7 linked regions of the Homo sapiens genome follow. The protein of the gene in region 7 purifies or fractionates together with the protein of the main gene of each other region. This does not show direct contact. Each region holds a gene or a part of one and is shown on either strand. Other genes may lie near its edges.

What was found.
Region 1: the proteins of HAVCR1 (region 7) and PI4K2A purify together in Homo sapiens (affinity purification with mass spectrometry, with the first as the bait; one large-scale study listed by BioGRID). This does not show direct contact.
Region 2: the proteins of HAVCR1 (region 7) and ABCG2 purify together in Homo sapiens (affinity purification with mass spectrometry, with the first as the bait; one large-scale study listed by BioGRID). This does not show direct contact.
Region 3: the proteins of HAVCR1 (region 7) and SLC12A3 purify together in Homo sapiens (affinity purification with mass spectrometry, with the first as the bait; one large-scale study listed by BioGRID). This does not show direct contact.
Region 4: the proteins of HAVCR1 (region 7) and STAM purify together in Homo sapiens (affinity purification with western blotting; one study listed by BioGRID). This does not show direct contact.
Region 5: the proteins of HAVCR1 (region 7) and ACVR1B purify together in Homo sapiens (affinity purification with mass spectrometry, with the first as the bait; one large-scale study listed by BioGRID). This does not show direct contact.
Region 6: the proteins of HAVCR1 (region 7) and MARCHF3 purify together in Homo sapiens (affinity purification with western blotting; one study listed by BioGRID). This does not show direct contact.

What each region holds. Positions count from the first base shown.
Region 1 is NC_000010.11:97,646,237-97,650,703, reverse strand, and holds part of PI4K2A (phosphatidylinositol 4-kinase type 2-alpha), read right to left. Parts: intron 1-4,467. UniProt on the Homo sapiens protein: Membrane-bound phosphatidylinositol-4 kinase (PI4-kinase) that catalyzes the phosphorylation of phosphatidylinositol (PI) to phosphatidylinositol 4-phosphate (PI4P), a lipid that plays important roles in endocytosis, Golgi function, protein sorting and membrane trafficking and is required for prolonged survival of neurons.
Region 2 is NC_000004.12:88,089,331-88,093,168, forward strand, and holds the end of ABCG2 (broad substrate specificity ATP-binding cassette transporter ABCG2), read right to left. Parts: intron 3,052-3,838; coding exon 2,904-3,051; 3' UTR 939-2,903; downstream 1-938.
Region 3 is NC_000016.10:56,863,929-56,868,006, forward strand, and holds the start of SLC12A3 (solute carrier family 12 member 3), read left to right. Parts: upstream 1-1,278; 5' UTR 1,279-1,307; coding exon 1,308-1,589; intron 1,590-3,141; coding exon 3,142-3,288; intron 3,289-4,078. UniProt on the Homo sapiens protein: Electroneutral sodium and chloride ion cotransporter, which acts as a key mediator of sodium and chloride reabsorption in kidney distal convoluted tubules.
Region 4 is NC_000010.11:17,709,593-17,714,059, forward strand, and holds part of STAM (signal transducing adapter molecule 1), read left to right. Parts: intron 1-3,676; coding exon of another isoform or gene 3,677-3,788; exon of another isoform or gene 3,789-4,467. UniProt on the Homo sapiens protein: Involved in intracellular signal transduction mediated by cytokines and growth factors. Upon IL-2 and GM-CSL stimulation, it plays a role in signaling leading to DNA synthesis and MYC induction. May also play a role in T-cell development.
Region 5 is NC_000012.12:51,992,825-51,997,291, reverse strand, and holds the end of ACVR1B (activin receptor type-1B isoform a precursor), read right to left. Parts: intron 3,308-4,467; coding exon 3,182-3,307; 3' UTR 214-3,181; downstream 1-213. UniProt on the Homo sapiens protein: Transmembrane serine/threonine kinase activin type-1 receptor forming an activin receptor complex with activin receptor type-2 (ACVR2A or ACVR2B).
Region 6 is NC_000005.10:126,876,690-126,881,156, forward strand, and holds part of MARCHF3 (E3 ubiquitin-protein ligase MARCHF3), read right to left. Parts: intron 1,706-4,467; coding exon 1,496-1,705; intron 1-1,495. UniProt on the Homo sapiens protein: E3 ubiquitin-protein ligase which may be involved in endosomal trafficking. E3 ubiquitin ligases accept ubiquitin from an E2 ubiquitin-conjugating enzyme in the form of a thioester and then directly transfer the ubiquitin to targeted substrates.
Region 7 is NC_000005.10:157,034,587-157,039,053, forward strand, and holds part of HAVCR1 (hepatitis A virus cellular receptor 1 isoform a precursor), read right to left. Parts: intron 2,776-4,467; coding exon 2,661-2,775; intron 1-2,660. UniProt on the Homo sapiens protein: Phosphatidylserine receptor that plays an important functional role in regulatory B-cells homeostasis including generation, expansion and suppressor functions.

The sequences.
Region 1 (4,467 bases), on a different chromosome or scaffold from region 7:
CTTGCTCCTTTTTCCCTCTTCTCCATCTCTTTTCCCTCATATAAGTACCTACCTCTAACTTTGTGCTTCAAACAAACAAGGTAAATGGATTGCTACATTTCTAGGAGCAAGACACAGAAGCAGGCCAGGTACAAGGGTTCATGCCTGTAATCCCAGCACTTTGGGAGGCCAAGGCGGGTGGATAATTTGAGGCCAGGAGTTTGAGACCAGCCTGGCCAACATGGCGAAACCCTGTCTCTACTAAAAATACAAAAAGTAGCTGGGCGCGGTGGTGCACACCTGTAATTCCAGTTACTTCAGAGGCTGAGGCATGAGAATCACTTGAACCCATGGGGCGGAGGTTGCAGTGAGCCTAGATTGCCCACACTGCATTCCTCACCCTGGGCGACCAAACGAGACCCTGTCTCACAAAAAAAAAAAAAAAAGGTACAGAAGCCAATTCAGTGGTAGATCGTGAGTCACTGGCAGCATCTAATGCCAATATGGTACTGCTTCCTGCCCTCCAGAAAGATACAATATCCTAATGCACATATCGAGGGCTCTAAAGTAATCTTTCCCCCAAAAAAATGAGGAATTAACTTATCACAGGTTATATGTTCTCTTTTTTTGCATGCACCCCTGCCCTATTTATCCTACGGGATCTTTCTGTATGTGGTATGCCAGAAATTTAACATCATAAACTCTAATTTCCGAAGTTACATTATGCACACTGTTGTTCTGCACCAATTACAGAAAGACTAAAAACTTTACCAACTGGAAGGAAGTAAAGAAGGTATTATGGGCCGGGCATGGTGGCTTACGCTTGTAATCCCAGCACTTTGGGAGGCCAAGGTGGGCAGATAACCTGAGGTCAAGAGTTCGAGACCAGCCTGGCCAACATGGTGAAACCCTGTCTCTACTAAAAATACAAAAATTAGCTGGGCATGGTGGCATGCACCTGTAATCCCAGCTACCCGGGAGGCTGAGGCAGGAGAATCACTTGAACTCAGGAGGCGGAGGTTGCAGTGAGCTGAGATCACGCCACTGCACTCCAGCCTGGGTGACAAGACCAAGCCTCTGCCTCAAAAAAAAAAAAAAAAAAAAAAAAAAAAAAATCTATTATGGAATGAGGTTAAGGAAATTCCTTCATCAATGATGAAGAGATTTCCTCTCGCAGCCTTATTATCCAAAGAGAAAAATCACAGCAGGAAAAAGACTCTGCTACTTGGTTAGAATGAAGCTCTCTTAAGTAATTCTGATAGGCAAGAAACCAGGACATGAGATGCCACACAGATTAAATCCATCTTCTATAGCAGACAGTAACTTAATCTTCTAAGGTCTTTGGAAATATGGGATGCCTAGAAACTATGGCCCTCCCTCCTGAGTGTTTTCTTCAACAGGCCAGTCAGCCCTCTGAGGTTGTTTTACATTCATCTAATTCCCTCCAGTCCCCAAACTGGTAATTCAAAGGAAAAAAGCAAATATGCTATCCAAGTGATTCATCCTCATATCATATGACTCTCCTTGTCCCCTCACCCCACAGCCTACTCAAGCTAGTCTGGGTCATAAGATATTTTTCTGTGGGTGTCACTTCCTGAATGGCAGGTCACAGCAGACAACATACACCCATCTGCTTTTACCAACTCAGTACTCATATTAGGAACTAGCTAGGTCCATGTCGCTAACAATAACTGGTCGATCTTGAAGCCAGCTCCTTTAAAAATGCCTTCCAAGGATTTGAGAGGACAAGAAAAATACAGAACTCCTCCTTCTCCCTCCAAAAAGAATCAATTTATTCTTAAAGACAAACTAACTTATTTACTGGCAAATGCAAAATGCATATATTCACATCATAAGTCTTCAGAATTACTTTCTTATGCAAAGCAGCTAGCTAGAGTCCTCAGCAGTCTTCTCTGTCTCTGCTCCCCTGGAACCCCAGCCTCTGAATAACAAAGCAGCAGTAGCAACAGGCTCACAACTCAGAGAATGACTGACGAGTCCACTGTAACCCTCCGGACCCTGGACAGGGAAACCAAAAGGCAACTTGAAGCATGTCCCAGAACGCAACAGTCAGTTCAACTGAGGCACATTATGGAGTTCAGTAAGCTGGTCCTCAATGAAAAGGAGGCCAAGACACTCCTACTACTACTGGGGGCTGAAAAATACCAGGGCTGAGGTCAACTGGTAAATACTTCTACTTAAAGACAGAAAAAGTTGGGCATGGTGGCTCATGCCTATAAGCCCAGCACTTTCAGAGGATGAGGCAGGATTGCCTGAGGCCTGGAGTTTGAGACCAGTTTGGGCAATACCACAAGACTCTGTCACTAATTTTTAAAAATTAGCCGGGAATCATGCCTGTAATCCCAGCACTTTGGGAGGCCAAGGAGGGTGGATCACCTGAGGTCAGGAGTTCGAGACCAGCCTGACCAACATGGAGAAACCCCATCTCTACTAAAAATACAAAATTAGCCAGGCATGGTGGCACATGCCTGTAGTCCCAGCTACTCGGGAGGCGAGGCAGGAGAATCGCTTGAACCTGGGAGGTGGAGGTCGCAGTGAGCCGAGATCATGCCATTGCACTCCAGCCTGGGCAATGAGCGAAATAGCATCTCAAAAAAAAAAAAAAAAAAAATTAGCTAAGTGTGGTGGTATGCACCTGTAGTCCCAGCTACTCGGCGGGGAGAATCCCTTGTGCCTAGGAGATCAAGGCTGCAGTGAGCTAGAAGCATGCCACTGCACTGTAGCCTGGGTGACAGAGCAAGACCCCATCTCTAAAAAAGAAAAATTAAACAACAACAACAAAAAAAAAGCAAGCAGAACTTGAAGGCCAAGATTGCAGTCAAGTGTCATTTAAAGACTGACCTCTCAAACATCTTGATTTCCTTCTACCATAAGGAGAATAAGAAGCATTTCAATGACTCCAAAAGCATGAGTAATTATGGTTATGCAATAGTACAGGGGTTTTATTAAAGAATACTGCCTGGACTAGATCAATGAGGGAATGTTAGAGTATGAAGAATGGAGGAACAAAAGGGCATTCAGACAGAAGGGGAGACAAGTGCCTTTCAGGACTAAGTGTAAGCCTCAGTTCAATTCAATTATGTTAGCATTTGCTCAGGACCTAGCCTGTGGAGAACGATGTGCAAGCATTCTGCAGGCATTTGGTGGCTTTCCTAGACAGAGAGGTAAAATACCCTCTGGCCTAATTTCCAATGTTCACTTCATAAAATCAACTATGCTACTGAATAATCAAGAATACTCTTCTCATTCATGGAGAACAAACTCTAAAACCACTCAAATTGGAAAGACACCCACCAGTATTTAGCTGGAAAAGAAAATGACTACTGCCTAATTTTTCCTCACCATCCACTCTCTTCTTTAATATTTTGTGTTTTTTTTCTCTTAATAGATTTTCAATTCCTTTATTATATCTAGGAGAGAGCTTCAGTTTGATGCCAATATTATAAAAACAACTTTTCTTAACACCCATTTACTAATCTCCCCTTTTAACAAAGGAGGGGTGAGGTACAGATAGCTTAAGCAGTAGCAGTCCATGAAGTTGGGAATAAAAACCAAATCACACAAGAAAGCAAGAGGCCATGCACCAGCTGGTGTCAGAACCCACAACCAATTACTGGAACCTGAGCCCAGCGCAGTGGCTCACACTTATAATCCCAGCACTTGGGAGGCCAAGGCAGGTGGATCATTTGAGGTCAGGAGTTCAAGACCAGCCTGGCCAACATGGTGAAACCCCATCTCTACAAAAAAAAAAAATAGAAAAAATTAGCCGGGCATGGTGGCATGCACCTGTAGTACCAGCTACTCAGGAGGCTGAGGCGGGAGAATCGCTTGAACCCAGGAGGTGGAAGTTGCAGTGAGCCAAGATCACACCACTGCACTCCAGCCTGGGCAACAGAGCTAGACCCCCCTCTCAAAACAAACAACAACAAAAAATTACTGGAACCTGGAACCCAGCGGGGTTCCTATATCTAATCAGCAATGACAAGGAGGAGGGTGTCATGCTATGCTAAAAGAGGTCCTTTCTCCAAGAACCTAAAATGTAAGACAGTTCAAGCATATCATTCACATCGCACAGTGAAATATACAGAAATTACCTTTTATAAAAGTCTTCTTTTAAAGTTTCATAAACATTAAGTGGATAGTTCTCAAACGTTTTGGTCTCAAAAAGTTTAAACTCTTAAAAATTAGGCTGGGTGTGGTGGCTCATGCCTGTAATCCCAGTACTTTGGGAGGCCAAAGCGGGTGGATCACCTGAGATCAGGAGTTTGAGACCACCCTGGCCAACATGCTGAAATCCTGTCTCTACTAAAAATACGAAAATTAGCCGGGCATGGTGGTGGGCGCACCTGTAATCCCAGCTACTTGGGAGGCTGAAGCAGGAGAATTGCTTGAACCCAGGAGGCAGAGGTTGCAGTGAGTCGAGATCATGCCTGATCTAGCCTGAGCGACAGAGTGAGGCTCCATCTC
Region 2 (3,838 bases), on a different chromosome or scaffold from region 7:
GTATCATAAAACAGTATATATTGCCACTAAAGAATGCAAAGCAATATAGATAGTATACATTTATAGTATAAACAGTATAAATAGCAACTTATATTCATTTAACTGAGATTTCTTTTATGTTAAACCACATTAATTCGTCTCCATTATAGATTAGTTCTGACATCCAGGAAAATAAAATCAAAAGAATATATATATATAAAAAACATAAAATGAGCACATAAAATTTACCATCTTAACCATTTTAAAATTAAGGAACTTTTTTAAAGTGTGGTTTATTTTCTTATAAAGTAGAAATTTACTTAAGGATATACATACCCATATATAAGATATAAATTATATATACATTATATATATAATTATATAGATAGAAATTATATATAGGATATAATATATAGAGAGGATATAAAAATACAGAGAATATATATAATATATAGGGTACATATAATATATATGGATATCTATATCCTTAAGTACATTTCTACTTTATAAGAAAATAAACCATACTTTAAAAAAAGTTCCTGGCCAGGCGCGCTGGCTCAGGCCTGTAATCCCAGCACTTTGGGAGGCCGAAGCGGGTGGATCACGAGGTCAGGAGATGGAGACCATCCTGACTAACACAGTGAAACCCTGTCTCTACTAAAAATACAAAAAAAAAAAAATTAGCCGGGCGTGGTAGCGGGAGCCTGTAGTCCCAGCCATTACAGGCTGAGGCAGGAGAATGGCATGAACCCGGGAGGCGGAGCTTGCAGTGAGCCGAGATCGCGCCACTGCACCACAGCCTGGGCGACAAAGCGAGACTCTATCTCAAAAAAAAAAAAAAAAAAAAAGTCCTTAATTTTAAAATGGTTAAGATGGTAAATTTTATGTTATCTGGTTCCTACCACAACAAAAGCATATAAAGGTAATTTTAATATAAAAAAAGAATACATAAAATAGGATATAATTAAATTCTCATTTATTTAAAAAGTTAATAATTGTGGCTGTTTTGTTTCTTTTGAAGTATATTTTGTGTAAAAAGTATAGATAGATATTTCTCTCTGTGTAATAAGGGAAGGGTATATATAGAGAACTGTAAGGGACAGGTATGTGAAAAGCAGGAATTATACCAAGAACAGGAAAAACTGATTAATCTTCCTGATCACATAACCAAGAAAAAAGATAATGTGTTCCAAGATGACGCATTAATCAAATGTCATCCAAAAAGAAAAAAGTTCAAAGATAAAAATATAATGCCATGTTCCCAAATTGATGTTGTGACAGAATGTCAGGGCACCCACTGACAAACTAAATGAATTCCAAGATGACCAGTGTCAGGGCGTCTATACACCATGATGCCCCAGCTCAGTTAACTCCTGTAAGTGCTGAAAAGTATTTACTTTTAAAAAAGAGGGCTAGATGAAATGTGGTCTCCTGAATTGAATCCTAGAACAATGAAAGAATATTAGTGGAAAAGTGGTGAAATCTGAATATTGTGTGCAGTTTAATTAACAGTGATTGTACCAATGTTAACTTGTTAGCTTTGACAAATGCATCTTGCTATATAAAATGTTAACATTAAGGGAAGCTGAGCAAAGAGTAGACAGGAACTTTCCTCACTATCTTTGCAACTTTTCTGTCAATCTAAAATTATTTCCAAATTAAAAGTTTATTAAAAAGTGGGGAGATAATTAAGTATCAACCTATGCACACAGAAACACAACACTTGGCTGTAGCAATGTTCTCATAACAGCAACAGAGGGAAATACATCAAGTGTCATTTCAAAAATAACCCAGGGGTAAGGAAGGAAGTAGTGACTGGGAGAATGGCTGAGTAGGCTTTTGTGTGCTACAATCTTCTATTTCTTGACCTGAATTGATGGTTGCACATGTGTGTTCATTTTAATTCACTGAACTATATTTTTTGGTACATTACCCTTCAACTAAAAAAATAAAATTAAAACATTTCCCTATTACTGATGAAGGTTAGAATGAAGAGAACATAAGGTATATAAGTAGGAAAGAAAACCTATGTAGGGACAGATGTTAATAGTTATTAAATCCTAAGTAAAATTTTCAGAACTTGGAAATTACCAAATCCAGGAGTGGTCAGATTCCTTTATGAAGGTAGATCTGGAGCTACTTAGGCCAGATTTTTGTATTTTAGCAAAGTTCCTCAGATGATTCTGACGCACACCTGGATTATAAACCACTAAACCACTGAACTACCCCAAGAAGGTTACGTGACCTCCCAGAGCTAGAATGTTCCAGAAATGGTGCAAGAATTCTATTACTGGACTCCTGGCCCTCTACTCTACCCACAGTTCCAAACCCTCAGCCAAGATTCCTGAGATATTATACCACTAGACAGGAATATCAGTAAGTTCTATTAACTTTAATGTGCTTATCAAAAAGATTTTTTTTCTATCACGGTGGCTTTTTTTACCCTATAAGACAGAATCTTTTTTCCAACATATTTTCAATTTTACATTTCCAGTATAGCATTAATACATTTGTCATTTATTAAATAATGGCAAACCATAGCATCATAAAGTATTAAGACTGAAGGGCTACTAACCTACCTATTCATTTTAAAGATGAGGAAACAAATGCCAGAGACAGTAATAACTTGTCAGGAGTTTCCAGAATTCAATTCTCCTTTTTTAGATTAATAAATTAGACCAGATTTCTTCCCCATGGTTACTGTCTGAGGAGATTAACTAATATGCGATACATGATGTCTTGGGTTCTTTCATGTTTAATTCAGTTTGTTGTGATTTCTAAAAATGTATCTCTTTAAAACAATTGCTGCTGTGCAACAGTGTGATGGCAAGGGAACAGAAAACAACAAAAAAACTTGATTGAATACTTCAATCAAAGTGCTTCTTTTTTATGTGAGGATAAATCATACTGAATTAAGGGGAAATTTAAGAATATTTTTTAAGAAATAACAATTTCAGGTAGGCAATTGTGAGGAAAATAACAATCATACAAGCCAAGGCCACGTGATTCTTCCACAAGCCCCAGGGTGAGAGATCGATGCCCTGCTTTACCAAATATTCTTCGCCAGTACATCTGAAATTAAACAGAAAAAGAATATAACTTCATTCCTAGCATCCGTCAAATGTTACTCAGTATATCCACTGTTCCTTAAAGGAGCCTAAAATTGAACCAAGCCTTTAATAATTACCCCTTCAGATATCATAGCTAACAGTCATTGTGTGTTTACAATTTTGCTAGACACTAACAAACAACATGGACCTAACTTAGTTAATTCCTAAAACAATCCAATGTGATAGACATTGTACACACTTAAAAGATGAGGGGACTAACGTTTAAGGAACTTGACCAGGTTTACAGAGTCATACTTTGAATCACCAAGTTTTTAGCCTACTCAAATTTATTGGTTTCCAAATCTGTAATGCTGCTCTCTCCAAAGGGCAGAAATATTTATCAAGTAATAGTTCCCTTATCCCTGATAAAGAAAATATCTGCTTAAACAGATGACACCTGTGACCCTTACTAAGATGATCAAAGCTCTTACAGTACTCTTTACGCTTACAAATAGCCATAAAAAACAACACAGGTTAAGAATTCCAAAACCAGGAAAAGAGGTGTGCATGGGTTTCCTGCCAAAGTCATGTTCTGTCAGCTCTTGCACCAAGACTGTGAGGAGCATCACAGATACTCAGGTACAAGACATTCCCAGCAGACTCAGCTATCAGGTTTAAGCCTTAAGTGGCAGCTAGAGTAGAGTAGGATGAACTCCTTGCCACAGGTTAGGAAATCATCTTGTACTAAAAAGACCTTGGACAGCCACAGTTACTGCCTGATACCATTTTTGTGCAACTCTTGGGAATTC
Region 3 (4,078 bases), on a different chromosome or scaffold from region 7:
TGGCCCCAGCTACTTGGGAGGCTGAGGTGGGAGGATTCTTGAAGTCTGGTGGTTGAGGCTTCAGTGAGCTGCGATTGTGCCACTGCACTCCAGCCTGGGTGACAGAGCCAGAACCTGTCTCAAAAAAAAAAAAAAAATTATATAATTCATCTATTCAAAACTACTAAATAATTTTTTTTTTTTTTCGAGACAGAGTCTTGCTCTGTCGCCCAGGCTGGAGTACGATGGTGCGATCTGGACTCACTGCAACCTCTGCCTCCTGGGTTCAAGCAATTCTCCTGCCTCAGCCTCCCAAGTAGCTGGGACTACAGGTGCCCACCACCATGCCCAGCTAATTTTTGTATTTTTAATAGAGACAGGGTTTCACCATGTTGGCCAGGCTGGTGATCCATCCACCTCAGCCTCCCAATATTAAATAAATTTTTTAAATCCAAATACTAATATGAGAGGTTTTTGAACTCTCATAGAGTAGGACCCAGAGTGTGTCCTCAGGCTAAGGGAGGACACCACCCCTCATATTGTCTTATGCCCAGTTTCTGCTTCCAAAGAAAGAAAAAGTAAAAATTAAAAGGCAGAAATGAAATCCACAAGCAGACAGCCCGGCGCCACACCCTGGGCCTGGTAGTTAAAGATCGAGCCCTGACCTAATCGGTTATGTAATCTATAGATTACAGACATTTTATAGAAATGCACTTTGAAAATCCCTGTCCTGTTTTGTTCCAATCTAATGATCGGTGCATGCAGCCCCCAGTCACGTACCCCCTGCTTGCTCAATCAATCACGACCCTCTCACATGCACCCCCTTAGAGTTGTGAGCCCTGAAAAGGGACAGGAATTGCTCACTCTGGGAGCTCGGCTCTTGAGACAGGAGTCTTGCCGATGCCCCCCGGCCGAATAAACCCCTTCCTTCTTTAAGTCGGTGTTTGAGGAGTTTTGACTGCAGCTCGTCCTGCTACAAAGCCACCAGGCTATCTCTAGGATCCCTTATGGGGCCCCTCAGGGTCCTCTCTGACAACTCCTTCTTGGGTCCTGGCTGAAGATCTCTGCTGCCCCCAGACTCAGAAGAGCCACTCCAGGACTCAGGGAGTGGCTGGCTTTGGGCCAGCCCAGCCCTCCAGATCCAAGGCGGGTCCCCTATCTCCACAATCAAATGGTGTTCTGCCTCCGGCCCTGTCCGGGGACCCTGCTCACCAGCCACGGGCGGTTTAGGCCAACCTCCCTGCCTCCTCCCCAGTGCAGACGCAGCCTATAAAACCACCCTGTGTGTCCTTGCGGATCCTGGCCCCTCCCTGGACACCCAGGCGACAATGGCAGAACTGCCCACAACAGAGACGCCTGGGGACGCCACTTTGTGCAGCGGGCGCTTCACCATCAGCACACTGCTGAGCAGTGATGAGCCCTCTCCACCAGCTGCCTATGACAGCAGCCACCCCAGCCACCTGACCCACAGCAGCACCTTCTGCATGCGCACCTTTGGCTACAACACGATCGATGTGGTGCCCACATATGAGCACTATGCCAACAGCACCCAGCCTGGTGAGCCCCGGAAGGTCCGGCCCACACTGGCTGACCTGCACTCCTTCCTCAAGGTAAGTGCTGTCTCAGAAGACTGGCCACTTCCCTGCTGTGTGACCTCGACCCAGCTACCTAACCTCTCTGAGCCTCAGTTCTGTCATCTGTGCCATGGGGATGGAGGAGCGTCTTCTTCCTGGGTTGAGAGGCCCCAGTGAAATAGTGGAGCTGCAGAAATCTGGGCACATGTTGGAATGTATATTAGCCAATCACTAGCAACCCAAAGCTAGAGTGGGAGGCCTAGAGAGGTAATGAGCTTCCAGTGAGTAGAAGCATGCAAGCAGGTTGCACACCCCTGAAAGAGACAGGGCAAGAAGGGCCTGGGAAGGTTCACCTCAGAGAGAGGGCTCGCCGGGTTTGCTGCCCGGGAGGCTGGACTGTGAAGAGTGGAGGGCTGGAAGGTGGATTGTCATGACCCCTGTCTGGCCTCACTTTTCCCATATGACAATTGGGCTGAATTGTTCTTTTTTCTTTTCTTTTCTTTTCTTTTCTTTTTTTTTTTTGAGACGGAGTCTGGCTCTGTCGCCCAGGCTGGAGTGCAGTGGTGTGATCTCGGCTCACTGCAACCTCTGCCTCCTGGGTTCAAGTGATTCTCCTGCCTCAGCCTCCCGAGTAGCTGGGATTACAGGAGCGCACCACCACACCCAGCTAATTTTTGTATTTTTAGTAGGGATGGGGTTTTGCCATATTGGCCAGGCTGGTCTTGAACTCCTGACCTCAAAGGATCCACCCACCTTGGCCTCCCAACGTGCTGGAATTACAGGCATGAGCCACCACGCCCAGCCCAGAATTGTTCTTGATTCTGAGGCTAAGACTTACTAAATTCGCAGGCCTTTTCTCCACCCCAGAGCAAACCAAGACATGGCCCTTGGCTCCATACTGAGATGAAGTGCCAGGAAGAAAGCCCCAGAGGAGGGCGTCAGTCACTTGGGGCACAAACTAGGAGACCTCCCAGTGCCCCAGAGGTAGAGGCCTGGTTTCAAGACCCAGCCCTCCAGGGACCAACTATGTGGCCTTGGACAAGCTTTCACCTCTCCAGGGTGATAATAATCCTGTCGCCCATTACAAGGCTAGGCAACTGCCTAATCACTTCTAAGGCCACTGCTCTCCTAGGGGGAGGAGGTGTTATGAGCAGGAGCGCCCAGGACTCCCAGTCTCCCATGGCATCTGATCTTGGATCACTGCAACCTCCACCTCCTGGCTTCAAGAGATCCTCCTATGTCAGCCTCCTGAGTAGCTGGGACCACAGGTGCACACCACCATGCCCAGCTAATTTTTGTATTTCTTAGTAGAGACAGGGTTTTACCTTGTTGCCCAGGCTGGTCTTGAACTCCTAAGCTCAAGCAATCCACCCACCTTGGCCTCCCAAAGTGCTTTTACTACAGGCGTGAGCCACTGCTCCTGGCCTAGGGAGCATTTTAAAAGCCCCTCAAGCAGCTCAACACCCAGTGGGCTGAGGGGTCGGGGGGTGCTCGGTATGGGGCGCAGTGGTGCAGGTCAGTGGGCTGGATGCAGAGACGCCGTCCCTAGCACCCCTACCTGCCTGACTTGTGGTCTCTGGGCTGCCAGCAGGAAGGCAGACACCTGCATGCCCTGGCCTTTGACAGCCGGCCCAGCCACGAGATGACTGATGGGCTGGTGGAGGGCGAGGCAGGCACCAGCAGCGAGAAGAACCCCGAGGAGCCAGTGCGCTTCGGCTGGGTCAAGGGGGTGATGGTGAGTGGGGTGTGGGTGGTGCGTGATGTCCAGAAATGGGGGTGGGGTGGCAGAGCTCCATCCAGGCTCAGCTCTGACTCTCAGGCCCTGGTGGGGCTTCAGTTTCCCCATCTGTACAATGAATTCAATGAGTTAATAGATCAATAGACAATAGATTAAAGCCTGCCGGGGAGTAATTAGAAGAAACTGTGTTTCCCTAAAAAGCCACCAGGGGGCTGCACTAAACACACAAATCCGTAAATGTGTTTTTCTCCTCCATGAAGGGAAGGAAAAGGTTTGCTATAGTGAGGAGCAGGATTAAGTTTCCAGACAGTAGACAATCAAGGACACTTGGCTTTGGAGACATTATGGGACTTTACAGAGGGGATCTTATGGGATGTAGAAGGCTTTAGCCCTGCTCCGGGAGGCAGGAGGCTGGGGTTCTGATCTTAACGCTGCCAACTGGCTGTGCCTCCGTTTCTCCATCTGAACCACGAGCCCTCCCCGACCCCCAGATGCTCTTATTCAGAGCTGGGATCTCCCTCCTGGGCTGTGTTGCCAGAGCCGGGAACGGCCCTGCAACTCAGTGGGGCCAGCGACCACACCAGCCCCTCCCACCTGGAAGCTTCAGCCTCCATCTCGGCCTCTGGCTTTGCTTTAAATTTGGAAGCTGAAGTCACAGCCACCTGAGCTCTGATATCTGCTCTTACATGGGGCGCTGGCTCACCTGGCATTTGCTGAGCTCCCTGTAAATGCCAGGCTCTGGATCAACTGCTGACCACTGGGGCCATGGTCGGGGCTGGCAGACACA
Region 4 (4,467 bases), on a different chromosome or scaffold from region 7:
CTGAAATCTTTTCCTTGAAGCAAATAAAGGATAGGCTTTTAAGAGTTTACCAACGTGTATTCTAGAAGTTACGACATTCTAGCTGGCAACAGAAGTTTCTAGGTAGCACAGGCACAACTTCTAGAAACCTTTCCAGCAGTGTTAGGATTGCCCAGGAATGCTCCTGCACTGCCCTCTCTTGCACTACTCATCCTCAAAGAGTTACGTGTTAGAGATGCTTGGGGATTTTCAAGCATTATTCGGTTGTCAGATCTAGTATCCCGAAGTGACCTTAAGGGGGATGATGGCAAGGCCCACATGTCAGAAAACAGGGCATTCCCTAGTGGGTTCTGTATCTTAGAAAAAAGTGTTAAGTGTAGCTTGCACTCTTGCAGGATTTTTTTTTAAGTTGAAATCTGGTGGAAATGAATACCCTTCTGGAAAATAAACAGCTGTTCTTAGAGTAGCATGTTGCTTTACAACTAGATACAAAGGGGCTAGAAGGTAGGAATTGTTGAGAAGACACTAGGGTTCCTGACTTAATAGGACCCTGCAGCTATTTTAGTATTAGCCGGAACTGCCACTTTTCCCCTGCTAGTCCTCTGTTTGACTATGTCACATGCTGCTCTACCTTCCTTGTTACTAGAGATTACTTGAGACTCATTCTTCAAGGTCGGGGCCTTGGGAAATTATCCTTGTGAATGAGATAACCTGTTGGTAGGTGCTTTAACAGTGAAGTTCTGTAGCGCTGTGGTACCCTGCTGCTGTTCTCTGTGTGTGACTCTGCTTCTGCATTCGGGATGTGAAATCCCTGGCATAGGCCCAACCCTACCCATAGAGTGTAGCTATTAATGTCACCTCTCAAGGAACACATGTTTATTTCAACAGGTGTCTTTTGAAGAACATTTTCTTGAAATATTTAGCCCTCTCGTCCTGGCTCATTCCTGCATATTCTTTAGTTGTTAGCTTAGCTGCATTTTTACTGGGACATCTTCCTTGCTTTTCCACCTCTCAGCACTGTTCCTCCTGTGTGCTGTCAGAGGACTGTGTGTGTACTTCCGTTTCCTGGCTGGTAGTTGCCTTTTTACTTGTTTGTATCCCCACTGAAGACAGTATCTTGAGAGCTGGCACTGTCTTTCACCTCTATAGCCATCCTATGTAGCACACAGTTTTACACTGGCTAGGAACTCAGTAAATATTTTATGAATACATGTTTTAGTGTTAATGACAATTTCAAGTGCTATATTAGACCAGTTAGGTGTATTTTTTAAAAATTCCTTGCAAAGGCTTCACAAAGGCTTAGAGGCCATTTAAATATCTATATATAAAGGTACAATATGTAATATCTGTTTATCAATATATAAAAACAGATGTGTGTTTGTGTGTTTCAACGGGGAAATGAGGAATTGCTGGTAGAGCAAATGTAGGATGAGGAAATTGGAAGGAGCGAGGGCCAGGGTTAGAAATTTCCTTACTAGAGGTGTCCTGCGTATTTGACTCGAGCTTTCTAGCGGCAAATCAAGGTCAGTGAGGATTGTTGTTGTTTTTGGTAGGCAGGTTTTTTAGCACTCCTCAGTTTATATATATCTGAGAGGCTATCTCTTGTTACATAAAATTTTGGTGTTAAAGCTCACTGTTTTTCAGACTTCTGTCATCCTAGGACAGTCTTATTGTTAGTTGGGGAAGGTGTCACTGATGACGGTTTTCTAAAGCTACCTGTAGCGATGGTAGTATTATAAGGTGATAATAAGTGACAATTACTGTTAGTATTTTGAGACCACTGAAGCTTATGTATTTATTTGTCTCTGATTTTAGTTTACTACAGTCAGCATGTGCCAGGCACTGTGTTAGACACCTGAGAGTCTTCTTTAGCTTCAAGGTGCTTACTGAGTAGTAGGGGCAAACACATAAAAAAATATAATTTTATACAACATGATTTATAAATAAAGAAGATATATGCCTTGTACCTTAGGAGCCTCAGGGTTTGAGGAAGTTTTCCAAGAGGGTTATTCTTAGCCAGTAGAAAAAAAGTGAGGAAGATGTTCTGTCACGTCAGAGATGTGGTAGCCTGGAATGGCATGGTACCCATGGAGTGAGCAAAGATGGGAGGTGTGAAAGGCGTGGTATGTATCGGCATTCCAGCAGCACACTTACCAAGGGTTGAAAGCGTGTAGGGGAGCAGCGAGAGACATACTTGAAGACACTGCCAAGGTCGAAGAATGCTTGTTCTAGATACCATCTTAGGGATAATGAAAAAGTTCAGAAAGGGCTTTAAATGGCAGTAGCGTAGATGGATTCATAGGGGCAAGATTAGAAGCTGGGAGACCATGGATATTAGGCAAGAAATTATGAGTATTTGTTGGCAAGATACAGTGCTATTAATTGGAAAGAGTTATTTAGGAGATTAGCAAATAATTACACATTGGGTGACATGGTTGGGAGACAGCTCAGTGCAGAGATAAGAGAAAGAAGTATTGGTGAATTGCATGGTTTTGCCCCAGGCAACTGGGTGGACGGTGGAACTGTAAATTGAGAATGATTACAATAATGCTAACATTTAAGGGGTATTTAGTATGTTCCAAGCACTGTGCTGTATGCTTTACACAAAGTAACTTATTCCTCATAATAACCTGTGAAGTCGGTAAACTATTACCCCCATTTTATAGATGGGGAAGCTGAGACCTGGAGACAAAACGGAAGTCCCACTTAGCTAAGATTCTAAACCAGACATTCTGACTCCAGAACCCAGCGCATAGACTCTATATTACGGCAATATTATAGCCCATACCATTGTCAATAATAGTATGAAATTTGACATCTCCTAATCAACTTTATATCTCACACATATGGAGTGATGACAAATAATGCCTTAGGTCACCACATTAGTTGGAGAAATGTAGCATTAAATTACCGTCTCTTATAATAAATTACCATCAAATAATGAATTTGTGCCAAGTACAAGAGCACTGAATTTCCCAACAATAGATTTATAAATAACAATTGGAGGAAAGTTTAGAAGTAGGCAGTATTTTGAAAATTTGGCAGTTGCTTTTTATATTGCTTGTTTTACATTTTTAATACAAATGTAGGGGGAATTCTCAGCATCTTAGTACTTCTCTTCACATAGCTAACCTAGTGTCTTACAGTGGAAACGCATGTATTCCGTTGGAAACAGGAAGACAGGAAGTAGAGGCAGTGGATAAAGACAACCCTTTGAAGAATTTTTTTCTTTCTTTTTTTAATGGGAGCAGTGCACAAGTGCAGGGACTTGAGATGGGAGTACTGGCAGCGGAGCGGTGGGAGCGGTAGGGAAGCTCAGTACGTGAGGGGTGCAGCTGCAGAGAGTTGATCAGTGTGGTGTTGGAGCGTGTGCTTCCGTATTTTCAAGGAAATAAAAGAAATGAGGTTATGAGGCCTTCCCTTCCACTAGTCCTTTGGGACCGTTCTTGTCAAGAACCCTGGTGATGCCCATACTGCTAGACTCCCGGTCAGTTCACCATTCTCCTCCTCCTCCATTTGACAGTTCGTGATTCCCTCCTCTTTTCTGAAATGCTTTCTTCACTTGCTGGTGACCATTCTCTTTTCCCTTCTGCCTCACCGCCACTTCTTCTCAGCCTCATTTGCCTCTTGCCTCTTTATCTTCTGGACTTCAAGGTCCAGTGCACAGTAGATGGACTGCCTTTTTCTCTGTTTGCAGCCGCTCCCCAGGGGACCTCATGAAGCCCGGTGATTCTGAATGCCGTGGATCTGCCGAGGATTCCCAGATGCGTATTTCTCCTCCGTACTTCCCCACAGGACAGCAGGCTTGAATAGCTGATTGCCTATGCAGGACAACAGGCTTGAATAGCTGACTGCCTATGCATTCTCTTTGCTTGCCAGTTTTTTGGACATCAAACTTGACAGATCCAAGATTATTACTTTGATCTTCCCCACACCCCTCCCACCCCCGAGTCTACTATGGTCCCATCATAGTATTCTGAAAATCAGTGAATGGCCACTCTACCAGTTATTTCTACCAGTTTTTAGGTTCTAAACCTCAGGCATTCTGGACTCTTCTGTTCATTATCATATTTTGAAGGCATTATCTTCAAAATCTATCTAGACTCTGACCCTTTCTCCCATCTCCACCATTACTGCCGTGGCTCTTCTGCTGGTCGGCTCTCTCCTGGTGGATCGTAATAACCTGCAGTCAGCTATCCTGGTCCAGAGGGAGCCCGTTAAACCCTGTGGAATCTTATCACGCTTCTGCTCAGAACGAGCCAGTGTCTTTCTGTCTCACTCAGAGTGTAAGCTACAGTCCTTATTGTGGCCATCAGGTGCTGTGTGTTCTCCAGCCCCCTCCCCACCACCGCAGTCCTGCCGGTGATCTTAGCTGCTCTCCCCTCGGCACCCCCTGCGGCCCCCTCTGCCGCAGCACTCGTGGCCTGCTGTTCCTTGAACATGCTTGGTGTTTTCTCTCCTCAAAGGCTTCTTTCTGTTTACCTGAAA
Region 5 (4,467 bases), on a different chromosome or scaffold from region 7:
TGTCCCTTGCATGCCAGACCCGCCCTCTAGGAACACAAAGCAACAGTCTCAGGAAGACCCAGGATGTTGGGAACAGCATTCCTCTTGCTGGGGTCTGCTACAGCTGGTGTGAGCACGAGACCCTGACCTTAGAACATCCACCCCATTCCCAACTCCCCTGACAAAAGCTGGGTGGCCGTACTACGTATGTGGGACAGATGGCACCAGAGCAGCTCTGTGAATAAAACTTTTAATAATGTACAGCAGAAATTGGACAGGCTCATTCTTATATTAAAACAAAAGATTTCCTATATTACAATTTATTTACATTTGCATACTGAAGAGGTAAAGTGTCTAAGTGGCTATTTTACAGTCCTTTCTAATAAAATGTACAAAAACAAACAGAAGTACCGAGAATGCCGTTCGGGGGCCTTTATGGCGACGTAAGAACGGGCTTGGACTTGGTCTGTGAATCCAGAATCCAGAGGTGCAGGTAGCACTATGGATCAGGGTTAGCCTCGGGGGGCCAAAAACACGGCTTCAGTTTCTCCCCAACTCTCACTTAGTGTTAAGAGTGGCAGAGGTGGGTGTGGGAGCTTCCCAAAGACCTGCTCCATCTTCCCCAGAGGTGGAAGAGTTGGACTGTGTGTGGGGTAAGGGCAGAAGGGCCAACTGGGGAGTGGGCTAGTGGCTTGGGAGTGGACGTGTGTTGGCAGATCCCAGAGGCTACTTGTGACTCTGGGAAGAGGAGTCTAAGTTCCATCATTACCTATAAACCGCCAAGGTTCTGCTGCAGGGCGGATAGGTGGGAGGTCAGCAGGGGTAAAGACGGTCCCCCCAATGACACAATGGTATTTAAACGAAATTAGTGGCCAGTAAATTGGCCCAAAGGTTAGGGGAAGATCTCCTTTAATGCAAGGAAAGAAGCAATAATCAGTCAAATAAATAGAAGGGCCAGGAGCACTGGGGAGCCTGAGGGCAGGGACAGGGCTCTCCCTCCTCCACAAGCTTTGGCAGAGAACTGCTGGGTTGGAGGCAGAGATGCTCTAAGGCTACATACACAATACACCTCCCCTGGGGACAGGAAGGGGGCTCAGAATGAATGCAGTGATTTGAGGTCTCACCTGGGGTTCTAAACCCCAGGTCTCATCACCCGCCCCTGGTCTCTTTGTGGAGGGGGTTGTGGGGGTTCCTCTTTCTTCAGTGATCTTATATAAGAACAATAATTCTAGGCTCAAAAGGGTCGTAGAACCAATTATGAAACCTTCTGGTCTCAAAACAGGCATCTACTTACTTGAATCAGCTCTTTTTACAGTGCTCCAGGAGTAGGACCCAAGCATGTCTTGTCCACAGATGTATTCCCAGCACCTGGCACCCAGCAGGCACTTCACCCACATTTGTTGAATAAATGCCTGGAGAGGGTACAACCAGCTGGACAGTGCAAGAAAGGGCCCTAGAGCAAAAACCACTCAAGGAATTGGGGGTGGGGACAAAATACGAGAGAGACTGAGCCTCAGGGCAAAGAGGAACTCTCACTGCTGAGTGGGAACAGGCTCAGGTGCAAGGACAAACATTTCCAGTGTGATTGAGCTATGTGCGTTCAATTGGATAATTTTTTTTTTTAGGGATTTCTTTAAAAACAAATAGATTGAGAGGTAATCACAGAGATGGTTTTCCTTTTACAAAAACTTAATATTTAACAACATTAAAAAAAGTTAAAATCCAAACCCTCCCAATAAAATTAAAAAAAGAAATCAAACCACTCCAGTTAAAAGTTATGGCTTCAAAGTTATTATATACCTAAGATATGCTGACCAAATCACCACCCACAGCCGTGCTTCTAGGCTTCGTTAAATACTATACTCAGGTTAAATAACATGTTCGGCTCAGGCTGTTCCCTTCAGTAGGGCTCCTGAAGTGGATGCAAACCTCTCACCTTCCCTCCACCCTGATCAGACAGTCCAGTAAAAGAAGACCCATGCAGATGCCTCCCTCCCACCCCAGACTCCCTCCCCACTCCTTGCCCGCCCTTCCCTTCCCCACCCCAAACCCACCACCACCAAAAATATACACTGCTGTTTCCAGGATCTGGGAGATGAAAGACAGATGTAACATTCCAATCTGAGTCCCGAGATCTGGCTTCACATTCCTCGGCCCTTCCTCGATGCTGCTGAGGATGATGCCCTTGGGCTGGCTCATTTCCCATGGCTGACACTAACACCCAAGACTTCCACCAGGATTCCTTCCCTGCCCATCCCACCCACCACCCTCACATTTTGGCCCAAAAGCCTCTTTTGTCATGGACAACTGGGCCAGCTTTGGTTCCACAGTCTGAGATGGAGGAGGAGAGCTGTGCTGATGCTGGGGTGGGCAGAGTAGCCTGCCAGACACAGAGTACCACTGTGGCATGAGGGGCTCTGGGGGAGGGAGAGACCTCCAGGGAAGGGCACCAGGGAAACTAGATGCTGCTCACTACTGAAAAGAGGCACCAGCAAGCACGGACAGCATGACGACCACACCCCCGACCTGCACATGCACAGAAAGCTCAAGCAGGTAAGTGCGCACCTACAGACACACACACACACTCACACGCACGTGTAAGGGCATGGCACGAACCAGGCACAACGGGGGACGCACCTCGGCACATGCACACACGGCTGGACAGACAAAGCGGCAGATTCCGTCTCCACTGGCAGTCTCCCGGCAGCGTCCATCCCAGGGAGGAGGGGAAAGCGCGGCTCAGAGCTGCCTGTGAGAGGGGCTGCACTTCTGGTTCTTCCGGGCCACCTTGGTGTGCTGTGGGCTGGTCCCCGAAGGAAACCCTCAGGGCAGCTTAGCACTGGCAACACCTCGGTTCCTCCGGCCCCTCCCAAGCGCCCCTGTCATGGCTCCTGGCCACGTGCCAGATGCACCGGGTTTCGCGGGACTTCCCACTACAACCAGTTCGAGGTGTGGCACTGAGTTCTCCACACAATTCGCTCTCAGAGTCTCCATGCCATTAGGAGGTAAATAGAAAAGGTGTCTGTCTCAAACCCAACATGGGAGTGAGCGAGTCTCTCCCGGGCTCTGTCCCTCTTGCGGGCCAGGGCTCCTGGCCACAGAGGGCTGGGCAGAAACGAGAGGTAGGCCTCCATCGTACGCTCAACGCGGCAGCTGTGCGTAGTTCTCGCTGCCAGGAGCTCCGTGTGGAGAGAGGGAGCAGTTAGATCTTCACGTCTTCCTGCACGCTGAGCTGGGAGAGGGTCTTCTTGATGCGCAGGGCCGTCAGGCGGGCTGCGCCGTTGGCATACCAACACTCTCGCATCATCTTCCCCATCACCCGCAGTGCCTGTGCAGAGACCCAGGAGCCATCAGCTCGGTCATGCCCTGGAGAAGCCTTTCTGGTCCCTAGGCTCTCACTCATTTCCCTGCCACCTCCCGCTCAGTGCAGTCTGGCAGATCCACATCCACCCGGCGGCCGACCTTAGGGAAATGCTCTGCAAGGCTCCCTTTGTTCCCTGGCTCTTCCTTTTTTTTTTTTTTTTTTTTTTTTTTTTTTTTTTTTTTTAGAAGGAGTCTCACTCTGTCACCCAGGCTGGAGTGCAGTGGCGCAATCTTGGCTCACCGCAACCTCCGCCTCCCGGGTTCAAGTGATTCTCCTGTCTCAGCCTCCCCAGTAGCTGGGACTACAGGCACACACCACTACGCCCAGCTGATTTTTGTATTTTTAGTAGAGATGGGGTTTTACCATATTGGTTGGCCAGGATGGTCTCGCTCTCTCGACCTTGTGATCTGCCCACCTCGGCCTCCCAAAGTGCTGGGATTACAGGCATGAGCCACCGCGCCAGGCGGCTCTTCCTTTTTAAGGGACAGCTTACACAAGTGAAAGGCAAACGCTGCAGCTAACGGCCAGCTCTTTTGGTCTCACCTGCCCTCTGAAGCAAACCCTGCCCTGAGGGTTCCAAGGAGTGCGGTGAGAAGTGCTGCTCTATGATGCAACACGAAAGCATCAGCTAATATGCAATTCTGTTCTGAAATGCAGAAATGCCCTCTAGTGGTTAGACTCGTTAAAGGCAGAGCCAACCTCTCTACTTGACTAGGTAAGTTCTGGGGCTCTAATGGACGGCAAGGTGACTAGAGTCAACAATACTGTACACCTGAAATGTGCTAACAGTAGGTCTCAACTGCTCTCACTACACACACAAGCAACAAGGTGAGGTGACAGATGTGTTCACTAACTTGTGTGGTAATCATGTCACAATACATACATGTATCAATTCAGCACTTTGTACACCTTTGTTACAATTTCATTTGTCAATCACACCTCGATAGAGTTGGGAAAAAAATAAGTAAAAGGAAATGCAGAACCGCAAGTGAAAAGGAGGCCCATGAGCACTTAGCTAGGCGAAGCCTGTTCCCCTGAACACTCTTAAGACCCTAGAATTCCATGTTTATTAGTACGTATGTCACAAACATGTCCTCATGTCAACTCTTTCCACCAAATGTTGT
Region 6 (4,467 bases), about 30 Mb from region 7:
ACCAAGGCTGGAGTACAGTGGCACGATCTTGGCTCAGTGCAACTCTGCCTTCTAGGTTCAAGCAATTCTCCTGCCTTGGCCTCCCAAATAGCTAGTATTACAGACATGCACCACGATGCCCAGCTAATTTTTGTATTTTTAGTAGAGACAGGGTTTCGCCATGTTGGCCAGGCTGGTCTCGAACTTCTGACCTCAAGTGATCCGCCCGCCTCAGCCTCCCAAAGTGCTGGGATTACAGGCATGAGCCACCGCGCCCAGCTGGAAGCGTAGACTTCTAAAGGAAGCAATAATAGTTTTGCTTGGGGCTTCACTAGCCTGGGAACAGAATGTCTAAATTAACCATAAGACTCAGATAAGTTCTTAGCATTAGAACACTCCCTCTTTACTGAAACTGAAATGTATCTCCTTACTGTTTGAACACTCTCACTGGAGGGGAGGCACAGAGCTGGAAGAGCCATATGATGAAGAAGAGGGAAATGAACAGGGTTGTGGGAGTGGCAGCTGGAGGAACAGGGTCTGGGAGACACAGAAAGGGAGGAAGTATGTGCTAGAAGCAGCTTCCACATGCTGACACTGTGCTATGGGATATGGGAATGGTACACTTTAGACAGGAAATACATATTGAATAACAGTGGAACGTGCTCAGATTAGAAACGAGCAGGCACAGGAGAGTAATGCCAGGAAGCAGGGGGCCCAGCTTCTGAAAATATTCTAGAAGACAGTGATGTCCTTCCCTGCAGCTCCCAGAGGAAAGCATAAGGAGAGAGATCAAATGTTGCATTTTGTGGGTGCTGTCAACTGGTACTCAAGCGATCAACTTACTGCATGAAGTTAAAAGTTAAAAGAATGAAAAAAGTGATATGTAAAAATTCTTCCTCACACACAGCGAGAACACTTATTGGGAAATGGCCTTTCTTTGGTGGCAGCTTCTCAGCTAGATAAATTAGTGCTTTTATGGGCAGCAGAGTCAATATCCCAACACACAGAATAATCACCAGGCAAAGTGCGGCTCCACGTCCAACAAAGACTTTAGGCTGTGTCAGGACGTAAGAAGGAAATAACCAGCAGGGAGGATTCACGATCTGTGCAGGCAGTGACAGCAACAGCAGCCAAATGCATCATTCATAATATACTACAATCCCGGCAAAAATGAGAAACATAAACAAGGGAAAGAAAATGCCAAGACTCATAACAGATGGAGTCCTAGACTACTAGAGGAGAGAAACGTCCATGGTGTGTCTGTGTCTTTGACTGATGGACACCCAGAAGCCAAACTTTTTCTTTATGTGATCCGCCTTAGCAGCACAGACACACACACAGACAAACACACACACACACACATAGTCATAAACCAAATCTCATGCTCCCGCCAGCAATCGAAGGTCTGTTTTCTACCGGGCAGGTGAGATGTGTTACAGACAAGAGGAAAGGCTTGTGCCAGCTGTGAGGCTGCCAGCTCCAAATGGCCTGAACCCCAGCCACGGCCCATACTTACTAGTGTCCAAAAGAGGTAAATAGTGAAGAGTGCGACAGTGAGTGCAATCAGTCCGACGGCTTCCAGCCGACTACTAAAGTGCAGGTGGTCCACGGCGCCCCGCAGGCACAGCCAGCCCGAGATGGTGGCCAGGGGAGTTATAAACAAGAAGCACACCATGTCGCCAAACAGAGTCCGCTTCTCATGCTGGGGGCCAGGGTTTCTCAGCCACTGCCAGGTAAAGGGAGACAGAGAAGAGCAAGGGAGAGGGTTAAATGCCAGTGTGGAGTGGAGACACGCTGTTCTGAAGTTATCTTTGCCTTCAGAACCTTGGGAAAAGGCATTTCTGACTTGTTATGAGATAACAAGGAAGTGTTCAGGGCTCATTCCCATGCTCCACCCCCTGAATAATAATGATATGATACAAATAACAATAATAATTTATAGTGTCCTTGCTGTAGATGACCTACTTTTTGTGAAAATAGTCGTTACTATTCAGAATCACAATGATCCCATGTGGAAGGAAGAGAGAATGTTACGCTTGGAAGGTGACAGCTGAGGTAGGAGAAGTTCAGTCATGTGTCCAAAGCCTTCCAGTGTCTTCACCCTGGGAATATGTGCTGGAAACGGTTGAGTTGCTCAAGCCCCGCACATTCCCAAGACAGGCCTGTTTTTAGGACTGGCTCTTGACCAGCTTCTGAGAGATGAGCTCTGAGTCCTAGTAACATTTTACCTGATAAGAGTATTTTGCATGCCAGAGGCCTTGGGCCCACAATACTAGTATGATGAGACACTTTATGCCAACAATGTGATTTATGGTGAACACCTATTTTTGCCCTGGGAGCCTGGAGTTTGAGTAGCTGAGGTCAGTCATGCAGATATTGCATGTCTGTGTGACTGATCCCAGTCAAATCCTGAATACTAAAGCTCAGGTGAGCTTCCCAGATTGGCAAATACTTCGCCCATGTTGTCACAAATCATTGCTGGAAGAATTAAGCATATTTGTTTGACTCCACTAGAAAAGGACACATGGAAGCCTGTGTCTTGTTTCTCCTGGACTTCACCCCATGCACCTTCACCCTTTTCTGCTTTTAATCTGTATCCCTTTGCTGTAATAAACCATAACCATAAGTATAACAGTTTTTTCTGAGTCCCGTGAGTACTTTTAGTGAATAATTGAGCCTGAGGATGGTCTTGGGGATACCAAACACGGAATAATACTCACCTGACCCCATGAACTCATTAATGCCCACTCTTGGCTTTTGGATCCTGAACCTCCTCACTTAGGACCACCTCTGACATCTTGATTATGCTGCCATCTTGACTGAACTAATCCCCAAAAGGATGGGGAAAACCTCATGCTTGTTGAAAGACTAAATAGAATTTCTACAGTTAGGAAAATAGGATGGCTGTCCTCCCATTTGGGTACCTGCTTAATGCTTGCTATAATGCTTTCCAAAATCCATTCGACAATAGATTTAATTCAGTGCTTACATACTGGTGTCAATTCACATGAGTAATGAGGCCTGATAGCTCTTCTTCAGATTAGCATTGAAACACTCTACAGATAATTTGACATTCCCATCTCACTGTTCCATGTAGTAAACAGAGGCCAAGGAGTCCAGAGAAGGAGTGGGGTCAAACACAGACGATGGGGTTGGGGTGAGGAGAGACACTGGTACTCTTTGCCTTCCATCTTGTTCCTACCAACAAACAGGGACCTAGCATTGACTGTCTGCTGATGCGTGCCCAGCAGTGCCACACAGCTGGCTTGCCAAACAGGAGCACTGGCCACTTGCAGCCCAAGTGGCCAGGGCAGCGAATCCTACAAAACCACTGGGAGGAAGAGAAGGGCCATGATGGGTGAGACAAGAGTGGGTGGGGCTGACAGGAGAGGGAGGGGAAGGCCATGCTCAAGCATGGAACGACAAAATAGAAAAGCGGCAAAGAGGGAAAGAAGTTGAGGAAAGAGCAGTGTAAGGCCTGGCAAAACCCCAATGAGTGAGTAAAAGAAGCAGGAGGTAAAAGGCACCAAAGAAAGTTTTCTGGGAGGTGCCCTTCCTCAAATGTTTGCATGAATCCCCAACACTCCACCTTTCAGGGACAAGCCACCTTAAACACGGGCTGAAATGCTGAATACAGTCAGTTTCACCTCGAAAGTGGACACAAATAAATATTAAAACATAGATAATGGGGAGCTGACTTGTCTGCGAATTTAAATACTGCATTATATTTAATATAAATACCAAAATAAGTGCAAATGATATTAATCCTGCCATGTGTTGTCATGCCACCTCAGACATCTCAGCAGCTTCAAAGAAATTCAAAGAGCTCTTATTAATTAACATGTTCTTGCCTGAGTACTGGGAATATCACTATCAAGTGGAGAGTAGAAATAGGGCATTATTGTATCTTAATTTTATAGAGGCTCAGTAAAGTTAAATGATGGTGCCAGGTGATTCAGAAGCTGAACTGAGAAGAGGATCGAGATCTCTACTCTTATTTAGATGTTAGTGAATGTTCAAAAATTAAAATCGCAAGACATTTAGACATCCAGATTATTAAACAATGGTGACCAAATTATAGCAAACCAACCCAATTCTCCTCATGGTTCAGGTTTTCCCTGGAAGCAGATAGACATCTGGTGTACTCTTCTCTGTACTTCCATTTTGGAACAGTAGGCCCTGAACACATATGCTACCGATGTCCACAGAAACACTGACCTCATTAGCTAAGACTTCCCTTCCTTTCTTTTGCTTGGGAATTCTGGATGCATTTTATTAAAACTAACTTAGTACTTTACTTATTTATGTGGCCCTTGACATTACCCTATGAAATGACTTAGATATGGAAGGAGGGGAGGAGGTAATTACGAATCAGTGTTTATCTCTGCCAGATGCAAAATAAATGTGCAAAGACAAACTAGAGATTATGATTGCTTGTTTCCAGTTTCCTGTTTTCTAACTGTTCTTTGATCTTCCATATTTATGTGC
Region 7 (4,467 bases):
AGGGTCAGGTCTTTCCCTTCCCACAAGGCCATATCTCGGGCTGTCTCAGTGGGGAGAAACCTTGGACAATACCTAGGCTTTCTTGGGCAGAGGTCCCTGAGGCCTTCCGCAGTGCATTTTGTCCCTGGGTACTCGAGACTGGAGAATGGCGATGACTTTTACCAAGCATACTGCCTGCAAACACATTTTTAACAAAGCACCTCCTGCACAGCCCTAATCCATTAAACCTTGAGTCAACACAGCACATGTTTCTGCGAGCACAGGGTTGGGGTTAGGGTTACAGATTAACAGCATCTCAAGGCAGAAGAATTTTTCTTAGTACAGAACAAACTGGAGTTCCTTATGTCTTCTTCTTTCTACATAGACACAGTAACAGTCTGATCTCTCTTTCTTTTCCCCCACAGAGCTGAGATCACACCACTGCATTCCAGTCTGAGTGACAGAGCAAGAGACTCTGTCTCCAAAAAAAAAGAAAGAAAAGGGTATTTAAGCTCCAGTCATCTGGCCCTTTCTTCCATCTCATATTTTGTGTGGCTTCTGTACACATAATAAATATGTATTCATTTTCTCCTGTTAATCTCCTAATAATCTATTTTTTTTTTGGCGTACTCAAGTATCAAAATTTCAGAGGGAAAGTTTGAACTTCCCTGCAAGGTATTTTACCCAATTTCTAAATAACTTTGACTAAGCAAGCTCCAAAATAATTATATAAAAACTTCCTCAAATTTGCCAAACATACTCTTAATTTTCTGATTCTCCTCTGCCTAGACCCATGAACTAAATCAGTCATGGCTTCAAATACCACATCTTGCAAAATAGCTAACTAGGGTTCTTTTATGGGAGGCAGGTTATACTGAGACAAACACACACACACACAGTTAGCAGAAGGGAGACATGAAGCCTGGGGTGGTTGCTTTTTGAAGACTTTTGTTTTACTTTTTTAGTCTGTGTCTTGCTATCAGTTTCCCCTCCCAGTGTCTCATGTGCCTCTTCTGCTAAATGAGTGTTGCAAAATTTTAACAATATCACCCCCACAGGGAAAAAAATTAGATCTTGTAGGGTGGAGAAAATAAATCTTATATATCACAATGGTGTGTTGACTTCCAGATCGCAACACTACCCAACAAACTCCTATTTCTTGATACAGTTGGCCCTCGATGTCCACAGGTTTGGCATCCTCAGTTTCAACCACTCGCAAATTGAAAATTAAAAAAAAAATAAAAATAATACACAACAATAATAATACAGATAAAAACAATACAATATAACAACTATTTACATGGCATTTACGTTGTATATTAGGTGTTCTAAGTAATCTAGGGAAGATTTAAAGTATACTGGAGGAAGTGAGTAGGCTATGTGCAAATACTACACCATTTTATAAGGGACTTGAGCATCTGCAGATTTTGGAATCAAGGGGCTCTGGAACCAATCCCCCAAGGGTACTGAGGAACACCTGTATTTAGTTTTTCTTGGCCTGGCATTGTGGCTCATGCCTGTAATCCTAGAACTTTGGGAGGCCGAGGCAGGTGGATCACCTGAGGTTAGGAGTTTGAGACCAGCCTAGCCAACATGGCAAAACCCCGTCTCTACTAAAAATACAAAAATTCGGCCGGGCGTGGTGGCTCATGCCTGTAATCCCAGCACTTTGGGAGGCCAAGGCAGGCGGATCACAAGGTCAGGAGATCGAGACCATCCTGACTAACACGGTGAAACCCCATCTCTACTAAAAAATACAAAAAATTAGCCGGGCGTGGTGGCGGGCGCCTGTAGTCCCAGCTACTCAGGAGGCTGAGGCAGGAGAATGGCTTGAACTCAGGAGGTGGAGGTTGCAGTGAGCCACGATCGTGCCATTGCACTCCAGCCTGTGAGACAAGAGAGAAACTCTGTCTCAAAAAAATTCTTATAGAATTAAATTTTTTCCATAGGGGAATAATAATTGAAAAATAACAAGTTTAAAAAATAGTGGTTTTAAGTGAAAACTCCACTAGAATGTAACTTCCATGAGATTTATAGAGATTTATGGCAAAAGGATCTTTCTAACTACAATTACAGTTTAAGATTGCTGTGCACTTGTCATGTGCCAGGAACCATTCTCAGTGCTTTTTCTTTTTGTTCTTTTCCTTTTATTTTAGAGACAATGTCTCACTATGTTGCCCAGGCTGGTTTTGAACTCCTGGGCTCAAGCAATCCTCCTGCCTCAGCCTCCCAAAGTGCTGGGATTACAGACATGAGCCACTGCTCCTGGCTGGTGCTTTTTTTAATGGTTTTTTTGTTTGTTTGTTTTGTTTTGCTTTTTTGTTTTGTTTTTGTTTTTTTTTAAGAAATGGGGTCCCACCATGTTGTTCAGGCTAGTCTTGAACTCCTGGGCTCAAGCAATCCTCCTGCCTCACTCAGCCTCCCAAGTAGCTAGGATTACAGGCATAAGACCCCACACCCAGCTCCCATTCTTAGTGCTTTGTAGGTACCAATGCATTTAAACTTCATTTCCCTTCCCCCTTGAGGTAGATGGTATTACCATGTGACTTTTACAAATGAGGATTTGGGGAGACAAAGGGAAGTCGTGTGAAATCAAAATCATGTGACTTATGAAACTAGTGAACCCAGGCAATTTTGCTGTACATCCCTTGTCCCTTAGGAACAATCTCGAAATGACTTACTTTTGGCAATGATGACACCCAAAAGAGCAAGAAGCACCAAGACAGAAATACAGACTCCAGCATAGATTCCTTTAGTGGTATTGGCCGTCAGTAGACTATGTTCTAGGAACAGTTGCTGAGGAAACAACAACAGATCAAAAAAGCATCTTGTTAGAAAGTTATGAAGAGAAAACATTTCCCAGAATCACTTACCCAGCCACATTTACCTGTATTGGTGCTTGGGGACTTCTGGAACATAAGGGTAAGACCAAATGATCTCAGTTTATAACCATACGGTGAAAATCTAGGACAACTTGAAACGCAAAACATATTTTACAATGATGGAGGTGTTTTCTAGCTTGCTTGAGGTTGTATTTACATAGGTGTACACATTTGTCAAAACTAAAACTGTATGCTTAAAATGGGTTTGTATGTAAATTTTTTAATTTACTGTTTTAAAAGTCAATAGGCTATTTCCACAAATACATCCTCTTGTGATATTAAAAAAGAAAAAATGTCAGGCATGGTAGCTCACATCTCTAATCCCAGCACTTTGGGAGCCCAGGCATCCTGAGGTCAGGTGTTCGAGACCAGCCTGGGCAACATGGTGAAACCCCATCTCTACTAAAAATACAAAAATCAGCTGGGTGTGGTGCTGCACGCCTGTAATCCCAGCTACTTGGGAGGCGGAGGCAAAAAATTGCTTGAACCCGGGAGGTTGCAGTGAGCCAAGATTTCGCCATTGCACTCCAGCCTGGGCAACAGAGTGAGACTCCATCTCGAAAAAAAGAAAAAAAGAAAAAAAAATTGTTTATATAAATTGACTTGATGTGATGTTATCTTAATGTGCTCAGTTATTGAATTTTGTCCTTGGTTACAGTCCTTACTTGTCTTTTTACCTGTAATAGAAGATTCTGTCTCTATCTAAATAAATAGATTTGAGAGTAGCTGCACACAGACATGGCCATGATTAACAATTCAACGCTATGCAATCATGAAGAAATGTAAAATTGTTTAAGTCTTCTGGTGCCTATCACAAGAGATCATCACCTCCTGGAATAGGCCTGAAATGTGCCTGGCTTCCTGCTGGTCCCCATTTCATGGCTTAGTTCTAATCCTAAAGAGAGCCCACCGGGAAGGTATTTTAATAGAAGGAAGGGGGAGAATCTGAGTGAAGGACAAATCTTCTCATTTGTAAAATCTTAATCCCTGGAGTCAGAATCCCAGGTCTTCTACTTAGTCACTATGTGACCATGGACAAGCTATTTAGCCTCTCTGAATCTATTTCTATGTCTAGCAATAGACATAGACAGTAGATTCAATAGGGTTCTTTGCAAGGGTACTTTCAGGTCCTTCCTGATAAACACTATGAATATAGTGGAGTAACAGCATTTGAGCCATGCTTGCTTAGAAGCGGCATAGCCAGTGTCTGGGAGTGCAAAACTATGTTGTTATTACTTTACCTACAGGGTGGGAGGGAAGTGTAATGTGGGTAGATGGAGAATGGGGTTTCAGGAGGCAGGCTTTGCTTTCATTTTTTAATTACAACACACAAATACTGCATGCTCATTTTAGAATGTGCAGCTAAGCATAAAAAAGGAAAACTAAAAAAACCACAACCAGGTCACGGACAGTGGCTCACACCCATAATCCTAGCACTTTGGGAGGCTAAGGCAGGAGGATAGCCTGAGCCCAGGAGTTTGAGACCAGTTTGGTGAGACCCTGTCTCCAGAAAAAAATAAAACTGGCCAGGCGTGGTGATGCATGCCTGTGGTCCCAGCTACTTGGGAGGCTTGGGGTGGGAGGATCACTTGAGCCTGGGAGGATG